Regions from separate parts of the Homo sapiens genome. Here region 1 is linked to region 2. Evidence: fine-mapped expression QTL. Tissue or cell type: whole blood. Region 2 holds a variant in brackets; the other region holds the start of a gene. All regions are shown on one strand. Distances are from middle to middle.

Region 1 (10,155 bases), 20 kb before region 2:
TGTCCAGAAACAGTGTGTATGTGGCAAACAGCCCTGGGCCAGGGCTCAGGAGACCCTCCACCATATAGTAAATCCCCTCTACTACTAACACATAGGAAATCTTGGGAAAGAAACAACATCTTCAGGACTGTTATCTCACCTGTAAAATAAGGAGGTTGTACACAAAATCCATTCTAGTTCAAATTCTATAGATATGATTCCATAAAACATTTGTCCCCCAGGCGCGGTGGCTCACGCCTGTAATCCCAGCACTTTGGGAGGCCGAGGCAGGTGGATCACCTGAGGTCGGGAGTTCAAGACCAGCCTGACCAACATGGAGAACCCCCCATCTCTACTAAAAATACAAAATTAGCCGGGTGGTGGTGGGCGCCTATAATCCCAGCTACTCAGGAGGCTGAGGCAGGAGAATCTCTTGAACCCGGGAGGCGGAGGTTGCGGTGAGCCGAGATCGTGCCACTGCATTCCAGCCTGGGCAAAAAAAAAGAGCAAAACTACGTCTCAAAAAAAAAAAAAAAAAAAAAAAATTTGTTCAACTGATTATGGCCATATTGCAAGTATGCTGGAGTTCCTGCCCTTGGGCCAGAATGTTAAGAAGTGGATGTCAGAAGTCACTTCCTTTAAACCCCTCAAAGTTATACAACATCTGCAAGGTTCCTACATAACAAGCTGAGATTTCTTTTCCATTAAAAACAGTGCTCAGGCTGGTGTAGCAGAAAGGCCAGGCTTGGTAATTACTTACAAGAAAATTTTGAGTACTGTCTTTATTAATCACCCAAGGTGAATGGTAAGAACTAGAAAATGAGCTGGGCTGGCGCAGTGGCTCACACCTGTAATCCCAGCACTTTGGGAGGCCGAGGTGGGTGGATCACTTGAGGACAGGAGTTCGAGACCAGTCTGGTCAACATGCTAAGACCCCATTTCTACTAAAAATACAAAAATTAGCCGGGCATGGTGGCGTGCGCCTGTAAACCCAGCTACTTGGGAGACTGAGGGAGAAGAATTGCTTGAACCTGGGAGACGGAGGTTGCACTGAGCCGAGACAGCACCAACGCACTCCCACCTGGACAACAAGAGCGAGACTCTATCCCCAAAAAAAAAAAAAAACATGAGTTAGGGCAGAAAATGTCCAAAGAGAACAAGGCCAGCCCGGAGACAATGCAGCCAATTACCTCTATTTACCCTATGGAAAAGACTTTGTGACCTCAGAGAAATCTTAAGCAGTTCTCTTAAGAAGAGAACTTGGTTTTTGTTTTCAGCAGCCAGACCTCAGAGCAGCACTTCAAAAAGAGTTACTTACCAACCTGAGTGTTTCATAGCATCAAGCAGAAGTTTGACATATGGATCTAAAAAAGATATTGATTTAATTAAGTAATTGGAAAAGTAGCACCAATTAAACTACCCAAATAGCAGTGTAAGATATTATCAAAAAGTAACTCACAGGCCAGATGCAGTGGCTCATGCCTGTAATCCCAGCACTTTAGGAGGTTGAGGCGGGTGGATCATTTGAGGCCAGGAGTTCAAGCCCAGCCTGACCAACATGGCAAACCCCGTCTCTACTAAAAATACAAAAATTAGCTGGGCATGGTGGCACACGCCTGTAGTCCCAGCTACTTGGGAAGCTGAGGCATGAGAATCACTTGAACCCAGGAGACAGACATTACAGTGAGCTGAGATCACACCACTGCACTCCAGCCTGGACGATAGAGTGACTCTGTCTCAAAAAAAAAGTAATGTTATCTTAAAATTGGTAAAAATTGACATGAGAGGCCAAGCTTAAATCAACATCAAAGCAAGTTTGTACTGAAATAAAACACTAATACAAATACCAAGATGGTACTACTAAGCATCTTAGACAATATCAACTATGCTTTTAAAGTTCATTTTTAGTTAAATGATCAAACACGTTGTATTACGGTATATACCAAAAGACTGAGGGAATCTAGGGCCACATTCTTAGAAGTGAACAACAGCACAGTACCTAGATTTGAGGAAGCCAGTAGCCACACTGTTCTGTCCTGATCAGATCATACCGGCAATACCATGTCCCATGCTGAGTACTACCACCTTCTAAATTGGACCTGCCACTGAAGCTCTTCCACAGGGGATGGTGACTAGGGTACTACAGACTATTTCCAGTAAGAAGCAAGAAAGGATTTGGGGGGTTGGAAAGGAGACAGAAGACTTAACTAGGACCACACTACTTTCAAGTATTGAAGGGGTGCCATGTGGGACTAGATTCAGTTAATATTTCTTCAAAGGGCAGAACAAGGACCAAAGTATGGAAGTTACATGTGGCAGATTTCAGCTCAGTATGAGAAAGGATTTTTCTCCAACAATTAAAGCTGGTGAAACAATAGACAGTAGATTGAAAGAGCCTCAAGGAACAGGTAACTGTATTCCAGGAGAGGTCTGTAGAGTATCTGGCCAGCAATAGCACAGAGGTTTCCCTGTAAGGGGACGGGGAGGCCTAGACGATTCCTGAGGGCCCTTCCACATCTAAGACTCTATGGGCCCGTGACTACTACAGGAAAGTACAAGGAGCCCAAATGCCTCTGATATTAACTTTTCACATAGGCATCTTGTCTGAGAATATAAATGCACAGCCAATTATATGATGTAACCCAAAAAAAGTGAAAAAGAAACTAAGGTTTAAAAAAAATGTTGAAGGCAAAAATAGGTGAGAAAAAGAAATGTGAGATGAGAAAGTCAGGTATAGGTTACTGCTTTACCAACCTGCCCCTTGCAAGAGTGTTCACAGTAGAATAATTATTGTTAACAATACGTATTATTGAGTGAATACCAGGTAGCAGGCACCATATTAAGCACATTATTATTCATGCAACTAGGAGAATTTTACAAAATTAAAACAGTTTCAAAAGTCTGTAGTCCTTGTACTTAAAAAAAAAAAAAACCATGGTTTAGTACTTCAAAAAGGACCTGCAGCAATATTTAGAATAAAATTGCTTTGGTGAAAAAAAAAAAAAAAAAAGAGACTCCCATGAGGTCTGGTTTCCACCACCACGCCCCACCCAGGGATAGCATTTTAAAGCTGCAGGTTGACACTTTAATACCACCAAAAGACCCTCCCAGCCACCCTGCCCTTGGAAGATCAAGGTCCATTGATTCCTACTGGGGCTCATGTTCAGCACCCCACCTTCCTCACATCCTATCTATTTCCACTCTTCCTCCACTGTGTGGCCCTTCCACTGTAAAAACAGCTACCATTTATTCAGCTCAGCTCCTGATATGCTGGTACTTTACATTCATAAAATCAGTACTTTTTTTTTTTTTAGACAGGGTCTCGCTCTGTTGCCCAGGCTGGAGTGCAGTGATGCAATAACAGCTCACTGCAGCCTCAGCCTCCTGGGTTCAAGCAAATCTCCTGCCTCAGCCTCCTAAATAGTTGGGACTGCAGGCATGAGCCACCACATCCAGCTAATTTTTTTTATTTTTTGTAGAGACAGGGTCTCCCTATATTACCCAGGCTGGTCTTAAACATCTGAGCTCAAGCAATCCCCCTGCCTTGGCTCCCCAAAGTGCTGAGATTACAGGCATGAGCCACCGTACCCAGCCCCATAAAATCTATTCTTCACAACAACCCTAAAAAAGGTATTTTCCCCTTCTCTTTTTTTACAATAAGGATAGTGAGGATCAGAGAAGTTAAGTCACCTTCCACACCTGAGGAAAGGGATCCGCATTTGAACCCACATCTAACTCTGCAACCCATACTCTTTCCACTCTATTCCACTTTGAAGCACCTTCAAGGCAGGGTGCTAACTCATCTTTCTACTTCCCCCACCAGAACCTGGGAGGCACTCAATACATATTTGTACAGTAAATACAATATCATCATTCTCTCCCCTTTTACCCTCAACTCCCCTTCCTCCTCCTACCTCCCTGAGTCTCTACAAGCAGGTAATCCCAAGAAGGTTGGAAAATCTTTCGGTGGTTGACTTTTGAACTGTGACTGACTAGCTATGAAATAGTAACCTTGCTTTGGGACAAGTATGTTTAAGACTAATTTTCTGAATGTATCTGAAAGTAAACTTAAGAAGTCTATGTCAATGTAAAGGAATTAAGAAATCTTCTCTAGTGCAATGTCTCTGGGACGGGAGAGAAATTTGTCAATGGGCAGTTGTGTCCCTGTTTAACCCACAGCAGTTCTTAACCTTTGTGGGGTCGTTGGCCTCTTTGAGAATATGATGAAGCTATTAACTCTCTCCCCCGACCAAAAAAAAATACACTTTGGGCCGGGCGCAGTGACTCACGCCTGTAATCCCAGCACTTTGGGAGGCCGAGGCAGGCAGATCACGAGGTCAGGAGATCAAGACCATCCTGGCTAACACGGTGAAAACCCGTCTCTACTAAAAATACAAAAAATTAGCAGGGTGTGGTGGCGAGCGCCTGTAGTCCCAGCTACTCGGGAGGCTGAGGCAGGAGAACGGCGTGAACCCAGTAGGCGGAGCTTGCAGTGAGCAAAGATCGCGCCACTGCACCCCAGCCTGGGCGACAGAGCGAGACTCCGTCTCAAAAAAAAAAAAAAAATGCACTTAGGGGCACACACACACACATACACACGATTTCACAGACCATTTCAGGGATTTCTACGCTCTGAAGCCCATTCATGCATGAACCACTTCCAAGGAACGGTAGGTTTGCAAAACTGCTTTTATATTTTTACAGCCTTGGTATGCCTTAATTACATTTTTACATTTTTACAGCCTTTGTGTGCCTTAATTAACCTGGCTGGCACTTTAAAACTTGGCCTCACCCTTACCCTGAAGTCACAGTGTGGCTGCATAACTTATGTAAGAAATCGGAGGATCTGTCACAACAGTGAGTGACAAAAAAGGGCAGACAAATTCATTCCACAAGCCAAAAACAGCGACGAAAAGGGTCTCAGCGCCACCTCTAGTGGGGAAACTGAGCCTCAGGCTCCCAACCCAGCCCCCATGATGCCCAGTCTGTCTAGACTCTGTGCTGAACCTGAAGCCCCTGGCCAGGTGTTGCCCAGGCCCTTCCTCGCCCACCCGGTCTCAGACCCATTCTGTGGAACCACAGCCTCCAGGTCATGGCTCCTACTTGTCTCCAGCGTCTTCAGGAGCCTAAGCTGGCACTTCTGGTTGCTGGTGAAGAAGCTGGAGAAGAACCCTTGCTGGGGATTCCCCTGGGCCAGACGCTCGGGGAAGACCTGGCAAGAGACGTGTTGCTGCTGCAGCTGCTCCCCTGCCGCGGGGCCCCGCCGGCGCTCGTCCGGAGCTCCCGCCATGCCTCCCGCAGACCTCGCCGCTGCTTCCTCCTGGCTCAGGCGGCCAGAGCGAGACTGGGAAAGGTAACCTCCCTCCCGCCAACGCGACCGCCCAGGCCCTCCCTCCGCAGGGAAGAAGGGCAGCCTGGCTGGGCTGAAGACGTTAGGCGGGAGGGGGCTTTGAACCTGACGGGGAGCGCGGGAGGCGGGGCGAGAGGCGAGGGGCGGGGCGAGAGGCGAGGGGCGGGGCGAGGGATGAGGGGCGGGGCGAGGGCATGGGGCGGGGCGCGGGGCCCGATGCTGTTGGGCGGAGCTGGGTCTTGCGACTTCCCTCAAAGGCTGTAACAACCCGGCTGCCGCGGATTTCGCTGCTGCCCTCCCAGTGTGGGTGACATGTCTTTATAAGCGTTGTTCTGCAGCTTCCTGCTGCCTGCTGAGCTCTAAGGGTGTCCCGCCTCCTCGCAGACACTCCTTCCTCACCTCGGGGCGAATATTGGCCACTAACTGCTCTTGTGCCGCCGAAGGTCTCGGCCATCCTCCCACTCCCTGCCTTCTTCCGGGGCAAGCCAGTTGTCATTTCTGGCCCGCCACTTTCCCGACCCCTGCCATCCCTCAGATCCACTCTGCCCAAAGATGCCTCTGGCCATATTGAAAGCAGTGTTTTTCAGAAACGTTTTAAAACTATAAAGAATGACTAGTCACATCAAAATCCTCAAAATGTAGGAACCAACTACATTTTTTCTTCCCACCTGTACCCATTCGTTTACCCTACTCTTCTGCCCCACCCCCCACCAATAACTCCCTGATAACAAAGCGCACCCTGTTTACTTCTACCTCTCAGCCTTAACTCATACTGTCATTTCCATCTTTAAGCTCCTTGCCTCAGCCCCTATGATTGGGGCCCAGGTCAAATCTGCCTACTCCACAGGGCATTCCCAGATACCTTAATCAAAATTAATGTCTCCTGATCTCCCAATGTACAAAGCACTTTGTACCTGTTAATCATTTTCATCGTAGCCTGCCAGGTTTTATCCAATTTGTGTGTTTCTCTTTTCCTACTAAATTATTCCACTCAGCTCACACATTTATTCAGCACCTACTATGATGGGCCAGGCAAGGTGTAAGAGACTGAGGAAACACATGACTAAGAAAATTGCTAAAGATGAAGAGCAGCATGTGGTTTATGTAAGAAACATATCTGAAAAATATAGGCTCAGCAGGCCTTTAGGGTTATGAACAGTGCTTTATGTGTCATAGATGCTCAATATCTAAATTGAGTGGGATGCTAGGATAGTCATTCATCTGGAATATTATAAAAATACAAACAACTCCTATGTACATAGACTATTAAAGCCAGAAGTCAAAAAAAAAGTAACTACTTTTTAATTAAATTCACCTTGGATACATTATTTCCAATCCTCACTACAACCCTGCAAAGTAAGTATTATCTCTAATTTGCAGATAAAGTGGGCTCAGCAAAATTCAATAATTTATCTAGGACCACACAACTAGCTTTCAATCCAGTTATTGAACTAAAACACACATATGGAAAACTAAGCCATTACAATTCAGTGTGATTAGTTTGGAATACTGAAGGCAGGCTAGATATGCCTAGAAATGGACCATAGCCTATATACATTTGAAATACTATTTGGATTTTTTTCATGCTTTCTTTTTTAATACATAGATTCAGGTGGTTTATGTGTAGGTTTATTATACAGATATATTGTGTAGTGGTGAGGTCTGGGCTTCTAGTGTACCCATCACCCAAACAGTGAACATTGTACCCAATAGTTAATTTTTCAACCCTCACCCTTCCCCTCCCACTCTCCCCACTTTTGGAGTCCCCAGTGTCTATTATTCCCCTCTGTATGTCCACGTGCACTCAGTCTTTAGCTTCCACTTATAAGTGAGAACATGGGGTGTTTGATTTTCTGCTTCTGAGTTATTTCACTTAGGATAATGGCCCCCAGCTCCATCCATGTTGCTGCAAAAGACATGATTTCATTATTTTTATGGCTGCATAGTATTCCGTGGTGTATGCATAACCACATTTTCTTTAACCATCTGTTGGTGGACACTTAGGTTAATGGTTGATTCTATGTCTTTGTCTTTTTGTCATAACAATTTCTTCTTTTTTTTTTCTTTTTCAGAGACAGGTTCTTGCTCTGTCACCCAGGCTGGAGTGCAGTGGCGTAATCATAGCTCACCACAGCCTTGAATTCTTGGGCTTAAGCAATCCTACCACCTCAGTCTCTCGAGTAGCTAGAACTACTGGCATGCACCATCATGTCTGGTTAACTTTTTAATTTTTTGTAGAGATGGAGGTTTTTTGCTATATTGCTCAGGCTGGTCTCAAACTCCTGGCATCAAGTGATCCTCCTGCCTCAGCCTCCCAAAGCTCTAGGATTACAAGCATGAGCCACCACACCCAGTCACAATTTGTTTTCCTTTGGGTAGCCAGTAGTGAGATTGCTGGGTCAAATGGTAGTTCTATTTTTAGTTCTTTGAGAAATCTCCATACTAGTTTCCACAGAGGTTGTACTAATTTACATTCCCACCAACAGTGTATAGGCAATCTCTTTTTTCTGAATTCTCATCAATATCGGGTTGTTTTTTGACTTTTTAATAATAGTCATTCTGACTGGTGCAAGATGGTATCTCACCGTGGTTTTAATCTGCATTTCTCTGATGATTAGTGATGTTGAGAAGTTTATCATGTTTATTAGCCACTTGTATGTCTTCTTTTGAGAAATGTCTATTCCTGTCTTTTGCCCACTTTTGAATAGGGTTATTTAGTTTTTTCTGGTTGAGTTCCTTGTAGATTCTGGATATTAGTCCTTTGTTGGATGCACAGTTTGTAAATATGTTCTTCCATTCTGTAGGTTATTTGATTCTTTATCTTACTATGCAGAAGCTTTTTAGCTTAATGAAACTCATTTGTCTGTTTTTGTTTTTGTTGCATTTGCTTTTGAGGACTTGCTCATAAATTATTTGCCTAGGTCAATCTCCACAAGAGTTTTTCCTAGGTTTTCTTCTAGGGTTTTTATTGTTTCAGGTCTTAAATTTAACTCTAATTCATCTTGAGTTAATTTTGGTATATGGTGAAAGAAAGGGGTGCAGTTTCATTCCTCTGCATGTCTATCCACTTTGTGTAGCACCATTTATTAAATAGAGTGTCTTTTCCCATTATATGTTTTTGTTGTCATTGTCTAAGATCAGTTGGTTGTAGGTATGTGGCTTTATTTCTGGATACTATTTGCAATACCCTTCAGCTACAGGAATAAGTAAAAACGTACAAACCAAAAGCTGCAACATTTCCTTACTAAATTAGCTAAAACTGTTTCAATACTCATTGTTGAAGAAACAGATGGAAAAAAATTCATACCACAGTATCAATGGTTGTCTAGGTATTGGAATTTTTTTGTTACATTCTCCTGAAATTTTCTAATGTTCCTCAATAAGCATGTATTACCTTTATAATCAGAAAAATAAACTTTAAAAAATCAAGTGGGCTTTGGATGCCATGTGTAACTTCATCTGTATACAGTATAAAGACATAGGTATGGAATAAAAACACATTAAGGAAGAGATAATGAACAGCAAATACAAATGAGTTTTAAAAAGAAAAAGAATTACCACAAAGAAATTAGAGCAAGGGCAAAGATTTAGCTATAAGGATTTTCATTTCTCCATTGCAGCACTAATTGAGAGCAAAAATGGCCAGGCCAGTGGCATGTAATCATAGCTATTTGGGAGGCTAAGGCAGGAGGACTGCCTGAGCCCAGAAGTTCAAGACCAGCCTGTGTGATACAGCAAGACACCTCCTCCTCAAAAAAAAGGGGCGGCAGGGGAAGACATCAATTGTTTAAATATCCAACAAGAGGTATAATGGAATATATACAACCATGTTAAGTGTCTTTTTTAAACAAAATATGTTCATTAAAAGTTTTTGGGTGTTTTGTTTTGTTTTTTTGTTTTTTTGTTTTTTGAGCCAGAGTCTTGCTCTGTCGCCCAGGCTGGAGTGCAGTGGCGCCATCCCGGCTCACTGCAACCTCTGCCTCCTGGGTTCAAGCAATTCTCCTGCCTCAGTGAGCTGGGATCGCGCCACTGCACTCCAGCCTGGGCGACAGAGCAAGACAACAGCTCAAAAAAAAAAAAAATTCAGGCTGGGCGCGGGTGGCTCATGCCTGTAATCCCAGCACTTTGGGAGACCGAGGAAGGCAGATCACTTGGGATGAGGAGTTCGAGACCAGCCTGACCAACATGGTGAAACCTCATCTCTACTAAAAATACAAAAATTAGCTGGGTGTGGTGGCGCCGCCTATAATCCCAAGCTACTCAGGAGACTGAGGCAGGAGAATTGCTTGAGCCCAGGTGGTGGAGAGGTTGCAGTAAGCCGAGATCGGGCCACTACACTGCAGCCTGGGCAACACAGTAACTTTGTCTCAAAAAAAAAAAAGTTTTTTAAGTTCCAAACTAGCATATACAGTATGATTCCATTTTGAATTTGTACTTACTATAATTCATAGAAAGGGTCTGGAAGACTCCTACAAAGTATTCACATTGGTTGTCCTTAAATGGGTAGGATTTGGAGGTTTTGTGTTTTGGGGGTTTTTTTGGCCTTCATTTTCTAAAGCAAAAATAATTGCTTTTTTAATGGGAACTAAATTATTTAAAATTGTATAAATCTATCACAGTAACAAATAAATTACATATAATTGTAAAGAGTTTACCACCTGTCAGCTGTGAAAGTTGATCATATAAATCGGGTCACTTTTGTCATACCAGTTAAAGAGTGGAGAGGCCAGAGGGAAAAAACATTCAGGTCACAAATATCACTTGAAAAATATAATTCTCTACAGGCCTGGCTGCTGAAACTGCCTGCTAACACTTAAAACCAATTT
Region 2 (10,155 bases):
CTGTATTTGAAACACAAATGAATTTTGTGTTTAGATTTGGGTCCGATCCCTAAGATATCTCATTATGTATATGCAAATATTCCAAAATCCAAAAAAAATCCAAAATCCAAAACACTTCTAGTCCCAAGCATTTTGGATAAGGCATACTGAGCCTGTATATTTGATGTGTTTAATCCATTTCAATTATCATTCTCATTGATGTTGAAATTGTCCCATCTTTAGCCAATGGGAATCTTCTCAAAGTAACCTCTGAGTTCTTTGACATGACTATAAAAGTTTTTGACAGCTTCCTTGCCTTCTAAATAGCAAGATGTTCTAGACTCATCTTCAACATTTCCTGCCTCAGATGTGGAATCAGCATGTCTCCAAGGAACCCTAATTCTTCTCAGTGGGAAATGGTATTTTAGAGGCCACAATCTAGAATGGATGCTTATTCCTACTGGGTCATTCATGACCAGTTCATTGTTTCTAGACCTTTGCAGTGGGTGGAGCTAGGAAATGTTGTTGTTTTAAAGATATAAAACAACATGAGTTTTATTGCTGTATCCAATTCAAAACCAGGACTATCTTCATCAACCTCACATCTGTATCTCCTTTTCCCCTGTGCCTAAAATCCCACCGTAATTACCTATTTATTTTTCCCATCATGAATAGTCTCAGAATAACAATCTTCACAGCACCACCACAATATGATCACTGAACATAGTTTGGGTTTTTTGTTGTTGTTTTGGGGGGACTTTTTTGCAATTCTTTTTCTGATTAGGGTATATTCCAATAGGGATGTATAGTCAATTAGTATGTTTTAAAGTCACTTGGAGGCCAGGTGCAGTGGCTCACACCTATAATCCCAGCACTTTGGGAGGCCAAGCTGGGCAGATCACTTGACGTCAGGAGTTCAAGACCAACCTGTTCAACATGCTGAAACCCCATCTCTGCAAAAAATACAAAACTTAGCCGGGCAGAGTGGCACATGCCTATAATCCCAGCTACTTGGGAGGCTGAAGCAAGAGAATTGCTTGAATCCAGGAGGCGGAGATTTCAGTGAGCCAAGATTGTGCCACTGTACTCCAGCCTGGGTGACAGAGCAAGACTCCATCTCAAAAAATAATAATAATAATTAAAATAATAATAATAATGTTACTTGGAAAAGTTTCTCACGTGTGATTATGCCACTAGCTCAGTACACAGGCTGATGTGCTTAATTGTGATTTCAATTTTTAGGGGTTGCATTTTTAGTTTTAATTTTGTTTTATAATTATATAAATTATTTGTGTGGTTCTAAAGTCTATAAAACAAGGTCTATTTGAGAAAAATCTAGCTTCTACTTCATTCCATAAATGCACCCCCATTTCTTATTATATAAATGGCCATTTATTTTTATTGCTTGTCCTTCCATTTTTTAAAGTATAAGCAATATTTCAGATATATGTATATATATCCATCCTCTCTTTAAATATAAATGGCACTGGGTGCGGCGGCTCACACCTGTAATCCCAACACTTTGGGAGGCCAAGGCAGGCCGATCAGGAGGTCAGGAGTTCAAGACCAGCCTGGCCAAAATAGTGAAACCCTGTCTCTACTAAAAATACAAAAAATTAGTTGGGCGTGGTAGTGCGCGCCTGTAATTCCAGCTACTCAGGAGGCTGAGGCAGGAGAATCACTTGAACCCAGGAGGCGGAGGTTGCAGTGAGCCGAGATCATGCCATTGCACTCCAGCCCGGGTGACAGTGCTAGACTCTGTCTCAAAAATAAATTAATTAATTAATTTAAAAAATGGCAGCAGACTATGCACTCAATTCACTCATTTAAATTATGCAAGTCAGTGGTTTTTAGTATATTCACAAAGCTATGCAACCATCGCAACAATTAATTTTCAAACATTTTCATTACCCAAAAAGATATTCCCACCAGCAGTGTGGTTTCCAATTTATCTGAATCCTTGACACCATTTATTACTGTCCATTTTCTTTATTATAGCCATCTTAGTGGAAATGAAGTGGGATCTCATTGTGGTTTGGTTTGCATTTCCCTAATGGTCTATAATATTGATATGGTTTGGCTCTGTGTCCCCACCCAAATCTCATCTCAAATTGTAATCCCCACATGTCAAGTGAGGGACTTGGTGGGAGGTGTTTGGATCATGGGGGTGGTTTCCCCAATGCTGTTCTCTTGATAGTGAGTGAGTTCTCACAAGAGCTGATGGTTTTAAAGTGTGGCACTTCCTCGCTCTCTCTCTCCTGCTGCCATATGAAGAAGGTACTTGCTTCTCCATTCACCTTCTACCATGATTGTAAGTTTCCTGAGGCCTCCCCAGCCATGCAAAACTGTGAGTCAATTAAACCTTTTTCTTTATAAACTACCCAGTCTCAGGTAGTTTCCTTATAGCACTGTGAAAACGGACTAGTACAAATATGGAGCATCTTTCATGTGCGTTTTGGCCATTTGTATATCTTCTCTTTGAAGAAATGTCTGTTCAGATCCTTCACCCATTTATCAATTGAGTTGTCTTTTTATTGTTGTTTTAAGAGTTATTTATATTTTTCTGGATATAAGTCTCATCAATATTTAATTTGCAAATATTTTCTCCCATTCTATTGTCTTTTCTTTTTTCCTTTTTCTTTTTTTTTTTTTTGAGACAGAGTCTCACTCTGTCGCCCAGGCTGGAGTGCAGTGGCGTGATCTCGGCTCACTGCAAGCTCTGCCTCCCAGGTTCACGCCATTCTCCTGCCTCAGCCTCCCAGGTAGCTGGGACTACAGGTGCCCACCACCACTCCCAGCTAATTTTTTTTTTGTATTTTTAGTAGAGACAGGGTTTCACCGTGTTAGCCAGGATGGTCTTGATCTCCTGACCTTGTGATCCACCCGCCTCGGCCTCCCAAAGTGCTAGGTTTACAGGCGTGAGCCACTGCGCCCGGCCCCTATTGTCTTTTCTTGATGGTGTCCTTTGAAGCACAAAAGATTGGGGTTTTAAGGTAGTTTATTTTAATTTTGATCAAGTCCAATTTATCTGCTTGTTCATTTGTCACTTCTGGTGCTGGCATCATGTCTAAGAAGGCTTTGCCTAACCCAGCATCACAAAGATCTACTCCCACATTTTATTCTAAGATTTTCATAGTACTATTTCTACATTTAAGTCTATGATCCATCATTATGAGTTAATTTTTGTCTATGGCATGAGGTAGGGATCTAACTTTATTCTTTTGTATGTGATATTCAGTTGTCCTAGCACCATTTGTTAAAAAGACTTTTCCCTTTTTTCTGTGATGTAATTGTGTTGGCACCATTATTTAAAAAAACAATTAGCCACAAATATAATAGTTTAATATAATATAAAAACAAATACAATAGTTTTTATAGAGATTGTGTTTAATCTGTAAGTCAATTTGGGGACTATTGTCATGTTTGCAACATTAAATATTCCAATCCATGAACATTAGATGTCTTTCCATTTATTTATGTCTTCATTAATTTATTTTAAGCATAATCTTTTAATTTCTTTTTTAGTTTTCAGAGTACAAGTTTTGTACTACTTTTTGTTAAATTTATTCCTAAGTGTTTCTTTTTTTGCTGCTAATGTAAATGGAATTGTTTTCTTCATGTCATTTTCAGGTTTCTCCTTCATTTTTTGTCTTGTTTTGTTTTTGTTTTGTTCTTTAATAGGTTTTATTTTTTAGAGCAGTTTTAGGTTCACAGCAAAACTGAGCAGAAAAGTAAAGAGAATTCCCATCTGCCTCCTGTCCCCACACATGCATAGCCTCCTCCACCATCAACATCCCACACCAGAGTGGTAGGTACATTTTTTTACAATTGATGAGCCTACATATCATTATCCATCATTTGCATTAGGGTTCACTCTTGGGGTTGCACGTCCTTTGAGTTTTGACAAATGTATAATAACATGTCCACCATTACAGAATAGTTTCACTGTTCTAGGCCAGGCTTGGTGGCTCATACCTGTAATCCTAGCACTTTGGAAGGCCAAGGTAGATGGATCACTTGAGGCCAAGAGTCCAACACCAGCCTGGCCAACATGGAAAAACCCAGTCTCTACTAAAAATACAAAAAAATTAGCCAGGCATGGTGGCACGCACCTGTAGTCCCAGCTACTAGGGAGGCTGAGGCATGAGAATCACTTAAACCCAGGAGGCAGAAGTTGCAGTGAGCTGAGATCACACCACTGCACTTCGGCCTGGACTATAGAGCGAGACTCTGTCTCAAAAAAAAAAAAAAACAAAGTATAGTTTCACTGTCCTAAAAATCCTCTATGCTGCCTATTCATCCCTCCCTCCCCAATAACTACTGGCAAACACTGCTCATTTCACCGTCTTCATGGTTTTTCCTTTACCAGAATGTCATATAGTTGGAATTACACAGCATATACCCTTTTCAGCTAACTTCCTCTACTTAGTAATGTGCATTTAAGTTTATGTTGTTGTTGTTAGTTGGTTGATTTGTTTTTTTGTTTGGGACAGGGCCTCACTCTGTCACCCAGGCCGAAGTGCAGTAGCGCTATCGTAGCTCACTGCTGCCTCAAACTGCTAGGCTCAAGGGATCCTCCCACCTTGGCCTCCCGAGAAGCTGGGACTATAGGCACCCACCACCATGGCTAACTTTTCATTTTTTTGTAGAGACAAGGTCTCATTATGTTGCCCAGCTGGTCTCAACGTCCTGGACTGAAGCCATCCTTTCACCTTGGCCTCCCGAAGTGCTGGGATTACTGGCATGAGCCACCATGCTTAGCCACATTTAAGTTTACTCCATGTCTTTTCTTTTTTGTGGACATGGGTCTCACTATGTTGCCCAGGCTGGTCTCAAACTCCTAGGCTCAAGCAATTCTACCACCTCAGCCTCCCAAAGTCTTGGGATTATAGGCATGAGCCACCGAACCCAGCCTACTCTGTGTCTTTTCACGCCTTGATAGCTCATTTCTTTTTAGCACTGAATACATTCCACTGTCTGGATCTACCACAGTTTAATTATTCATTCACCTACTGAAGGGCATCTTGGTTGCTTCCAAGTTTTGGCAATTATAAATAATGCTGCTATAAATATCCACGTGCAGATTTGTGTGTGGATGAAAGTTTTCAGCTCATTTGGGTAAATACCAAGGAGCACGATCGCTGGATTGTTAGTAAGACTATGTTTAGTTTTGTAAGAAACTGCCCAACTGTCTTCCAAAGTGGCTACACCATTTTGCATTCCCACCAGCAATAAATGAGAGTTTTTCTTGCTCCACATCCTCACCCATATTTGGTATTTTCAATGTTTTAGATTTTGGCCATTCTAGTAAGTGTGGCACTTCCTTGCTCTCTCTATCCTGCTGGTGTAGTGTGTAGTGATATCTCATTGTTTTAATTAGCAATTCCCTGATGACATATGAT[G/A]TTGAGCATCTTTATACCTGCTTATCTGCCATCTGTATGTCTTCTTTGGTGAGGTGTCTGTTCAGGTTCAAGTGTCTGTTCAAAAAAAATTTTTAATCAAATTGTTTTCTTATTATTGAATTTTAAGAGTTCTTTGTTTACTTTGGATAACAGTCCATTTTCAGGTATGTCTTTTGCAAATATTTTCTTCCAGTATGTGGCTTGTCTTCTCATTATCTTGACCTCCTTGGGTTTTTTTAACTTAAATCTAGACCTAAAGATCATACCATAGTAGTAAATATACTTCTCACTTCTCTTTACAACTGCGATTATTTTCTTTGTTTATAGCTGAAGTTTTTCAAAAGGATTGTATATTTGTATAATTTAACAAGAAGCTATTTTGTATTTTGAAATAGATAAAATAATATGCCCATCAGATAATTACCTTCATTATGTTTTATGATGTGGCAAATATTAGTATATTTGAGATGCCAATAATTGCCTGCCTGCCCACATCTTCTAAGAGAATTTGTTTTGTGCACAGATTTTCTTTCCCTAAAGGATAATTTAGCCAGATGTAGCAGCTCAGACCTGTAATCCCAGCACTTTGACAAACGAATCGCTTTGAGCTGCTCAGGAGTTCAAGACTAGCCTGGGCAACATGGCAAAACCCCATCTCTACAAATACTATAAAAACAGCCGGGCATGGTGGTTCATGACTGTAGTCTCAAATACTCAGGAGGCTGAGGCTGAAGAATCGCTTGAGCCCAGGAAGCAGAGGTTACAGTGAGCTGAGATCATGCCACTGCACCCCAGCCTGGGCAACAGAGCGGACCCTGTCTCAAAAAAAAAAAAAAAAGATAATTTACTAGACCAAATAACCACTTATCATCACCATGACTGATCAGGCCAGGGAGTGCAACACTGCATTCAATACCATTCTCCCATTTTCCTTTTCCATCCTAATAGAAAAATTCCTTTGTTATCTTAGCCGAATGTATTATGACAGGCTGAGCACCTTCTCAGCCTAAGAGGATGAACCTTGATTAGTCTAAGTCAACCACGATGACTGTCATTTGCCTTGCTTAATCTGCCAATGAGATGTAAGGGGAAGTTTGTTGGACGCCTTCTGGAGACATTTTTCCCTGCCCTAAAAATGGAACACATAGGAACAGAAAACCAAACACCGTATGTTCTCACTCATAAGTGGGAGTTGAACATTGAGAACACATGGACACAGAGAGGGGAACAACACACACCAGGACCTGTTATGGGGTAAGGGGTGAGGGGAGGGAACTTAGAAAATGGGTCAATAGGTGCAGCAAACCACCATGGCACATGTATGCATACCTATGTAATACACTTGAACGTTCTGCACATGTATCCCATTTTTGTTTGTTTTGAGAAATTTTTTTTTTAATGGGACACAAGAGAAGGACAGTTCATTTTCAGTCTCCCAGTGTTGTCAACCCCTGTAATACCTGAAGCTATAACAGCCAACTTGGAATCATGAAAGAAACCAGCCTCAGTGGAAAAGCCAACCTGCTGAGGATGGCAGAGCAGAAAGATGGGAGACACCTGGGCCCCCAGGTAATGAGGTCACTGAAGACATGCTCTATCTCTAGATTGTTGTTATATATGATAATAAATGCTTAAATAACTTTGGATTGGGCTTTTTGTTACTTTTAGCAAGAGCATCACAACTGATCAAATCAGATACCTAGCTCAAGGGTAACCAATCCCTAGGCCTGCCATTGGACACAGAAATATGCAAGGTATCATTATTCACACTAATGCCAAAGCAGGGAGCTGAGGCCCACATATTTCTGCTTAAATCCAGAGCCACTCTCCAGCTCTAGTCTGTCTGATGCCTAATCCCAGTATGTCTCCTATTTGTCGAATGCCAGGAAAATTGGTCCCCCTTAGTACAATTATCACCCTTTGTTTGAACTAGCTTGAGTGGCTTATAACCAAATGAGTTTGATTAGAGCAATCTGGAAAAGTTAGTACCTTGGGAAATATCCTGCTTTCTTTAAAAAAGAGATGAAGCTTGTCACCTTTAGCCTGAAAGGCATTATAGATGCATTACGCTGCATTTTACTTTTTTAGCTACCCCTATAACAAACTAAAGGAACTAAAGACAGTCCATTTGACGGGCAAATATGGAATCTGGCCTAAAAACTTCACAGAAAATGTTATAGTATATTTTATATACCATGTTTTATATACTTTTCAGGAAGATATTTTAGTACATATGTGAATTATATGTATTTATTTTGTTTTTGCTGAACCTTTTGAGGCTTATTGCAGAGATTATGACCCTTCTCTCCTAAGTACATCAGCATGTATGTACTTAGGAGAATATGAGAAACCAGCCTCAGTGGAAAAGCCAACCTGCTGAGGATGGCAGAGCAGAAAGATGGGAGACACCTGGGCCCACAGGTAATGAGGTCACTGAGGACATGTCTTATCTCTAGATTATTGTTATATATGATAATAAATGCTTAAACAACTTTGGAAGTCATTTAATATACATTCTATCTTCAAATTTCCCCAGTTTTCCCAATATTATCCTTTATACAAATCTTTTTTTACAATCTAAAATCACATATTTCATGTAGTTGTCATGTCTCTTCAGTCTCTTTTAATCTGGAACAGTTTTTGGCCTTGCTTTGTCTTTCATGACAGTGACATTTTTGAAGAATACAGGCCCATTGTTTTGTCCCCATTGTTTCCCTGTGATTCAATTAAAGTTATACATTTTTGGCAGAGACACTACATAAGCAATTTATGTTCATCACATCAGGACACACCTACAGTCAGTTTGTATTATTTGGGAGGATGTTTTTGACCTTGATCACTTGATTAAAGTGGTTTCCACTAGATTTGTCCTCATTTTTTCTCCTTGTATTTAATAAATAATATGTAGGAATATACTTTGGGACTGTGTAAATATCCGCTTCTCCAATAAATTTTCTACCAACTTCCAGCATCCACTGACAATTCTTGCCTGAATAAATTATTACTACTGTAATTGTTGCAGGTGTGACTATCTAGGGCTAGTGGCGCAGGCTGTAAAGGAATTTACCAAGACAATTGTAGGTAAAGAAAGGAAGATTAAGATATGACAATTGCCTTGCAAGGATGCAACAGGCAGCACAGCAGAGAAGGAGTTCTGTGTGCAAAGCTCCTGCAAAGAGGCAAGGGCTGGAAGGAAGTTTTATAGGGCCATGCTGGAGGGAGCTACTTGCGGAACAGGTGTTTGTGCCACAAGGTCGTTGTGCCCTTGGGTTGTTTGATTAGCCATCTCTCAGAACAATTTTTCACTGTTCTTCCCCACCTGGGGCCCCTTTCGTTGCTGTTGCATACTTAACAGTACTCCACAGTAATTGCATAAATGGTGACTTTCTAACTCATCATTACTTCTACATTAGTTGACACCCTGCTCTAAAAAGCCCTCCTTCTCCCTTCCCTATCTGCATTTGCTTGCTTGCTTGCTTGTTTTTTAGTGTCAGTATGAATTCACGGATTCTATTTTATTCAGTGGGATGTAATCCATTAATGTCACCACTTATTTTGATGCTCAAATTATCCCAGGTTTAGCCAGGGAAAGCCCATCAACTGGCTTCTGTGTCATTTTGACATAATTTCATGCTTTTTTAGCACTTCTTTACTTTCTGGCCTAGCAAGTTTTTCAGGCCCATGTTGCATTTTCCCTCCTCTAGCCATGAAAACAGTCCCATCTTCAAGAAGCTCTGGTTCCTTATAGCAGAGAATGATTTTTTGAAAACAAGATTTGGAAACCAAATCTCTTCATTGAAACTTGCTCTTTCAGCAAACATAGCTAGGATGTTGTTTTGTTTTGTTTTGTTTGTTTTAAAAAGAGAGAGAGAAAAAAAAGCATGAGTCCATGCCAATCCAGCACCACCACAAGGTTCTTCCTTACCTTTCCCCATTCTGTATTGGAATCTCCCTCCTCTAAGCAAGAACTCTGGCTTCCAACAATTATTAATGTAATTATTTTCTCAGTACTATAAGATACAAAAAATAATTTCAGAACTGCTACACCTGTGCCACCACCAACAATAAAGCTGTCAAGTAGAGCTCAAAATTTCTCACAGCTCTTTTGTTTTTAAACTCAGGATATATAGTCAAGATACTTTGTCCAAATGTTACTTGAGTAAGTTGGGTTTCTTTTTCCTTCTGTGTGATTCTCCATTTTATGTACAGTTCAGTTTCTTTGTTTCTATTTGTATCCAATTTTAGGACTTCTTCCCCAAAATTGTTGATTATTTTATAAACATGTAAAGCATTAACATGATTCCAAAAGTCAAAATAATACACTGGATTGGAAATGTGTCATTCTCTCTCCGTATTACTTCCATTCTGTTCCCACTCTCCCCCTGCAAGTAACAAATTTCAGTCCTTTCTGTTTTGTCCTTCTAATATGTCTTTTTCTTAAAAGGAAGTAGATATATGTGTATTGTGTCCCCCTATTTCTTATCTATGGTAGTGGCATACTATTATTCTCTTTTGCTCTTTGCTTTTTTCACTTGCAGCAAAGCCTGAAAATCACTCCTTAAAAGCTGCCTAATATGCTATTATGTGTATGTAATATAATATAATTTATTCACTCTGTATTCTCGTGTATACACATTTAGGTTATTTCCATTTTGCAATTACAAATAATACTGCAAATAAAATCTTACACGTGCCATTTTATATTGTTGAAGATGTTTCTTCAGGTTAAATTCTTAGAAGTGAGATCATTGAGGCTGAGCATAGTGGCTCATGC

What was found.
Region 1: ATP23 starts here. The variant in region 2 is fine-mapped to the expression of ATP23 in whole blood (INTERVAL, PIP above 0.99).

Annotation. Positions count from the first base shown.
Region 1 is chr12:57,936,816-57,946,970 of GRCh38, reverse strand. It overlaps ATP23 (ATP23 metallopeptidase and ATP synthase assembly factor homolog), which reads right to left and starts at 5,404. Exons shown (of 6, transcript NM_033276.4): 1 at 5,083-5,404; 2 at 1,298-1,343. The coding sequence starts at 5,269. RefSeq lists enhancers at 4,100-4,269, 4,726-5,535.
Region 2 is chr12:57,916,782-57,926,936 of GRCh38, reverse strand. No RefSeq gene overlaps it. Among named protein-coding and RNA genes, the nearest start is that of GIHCG, 14 kb to the left of the region's middle. The variant G/A (reference allele first, on the strand shown) is at 5,382.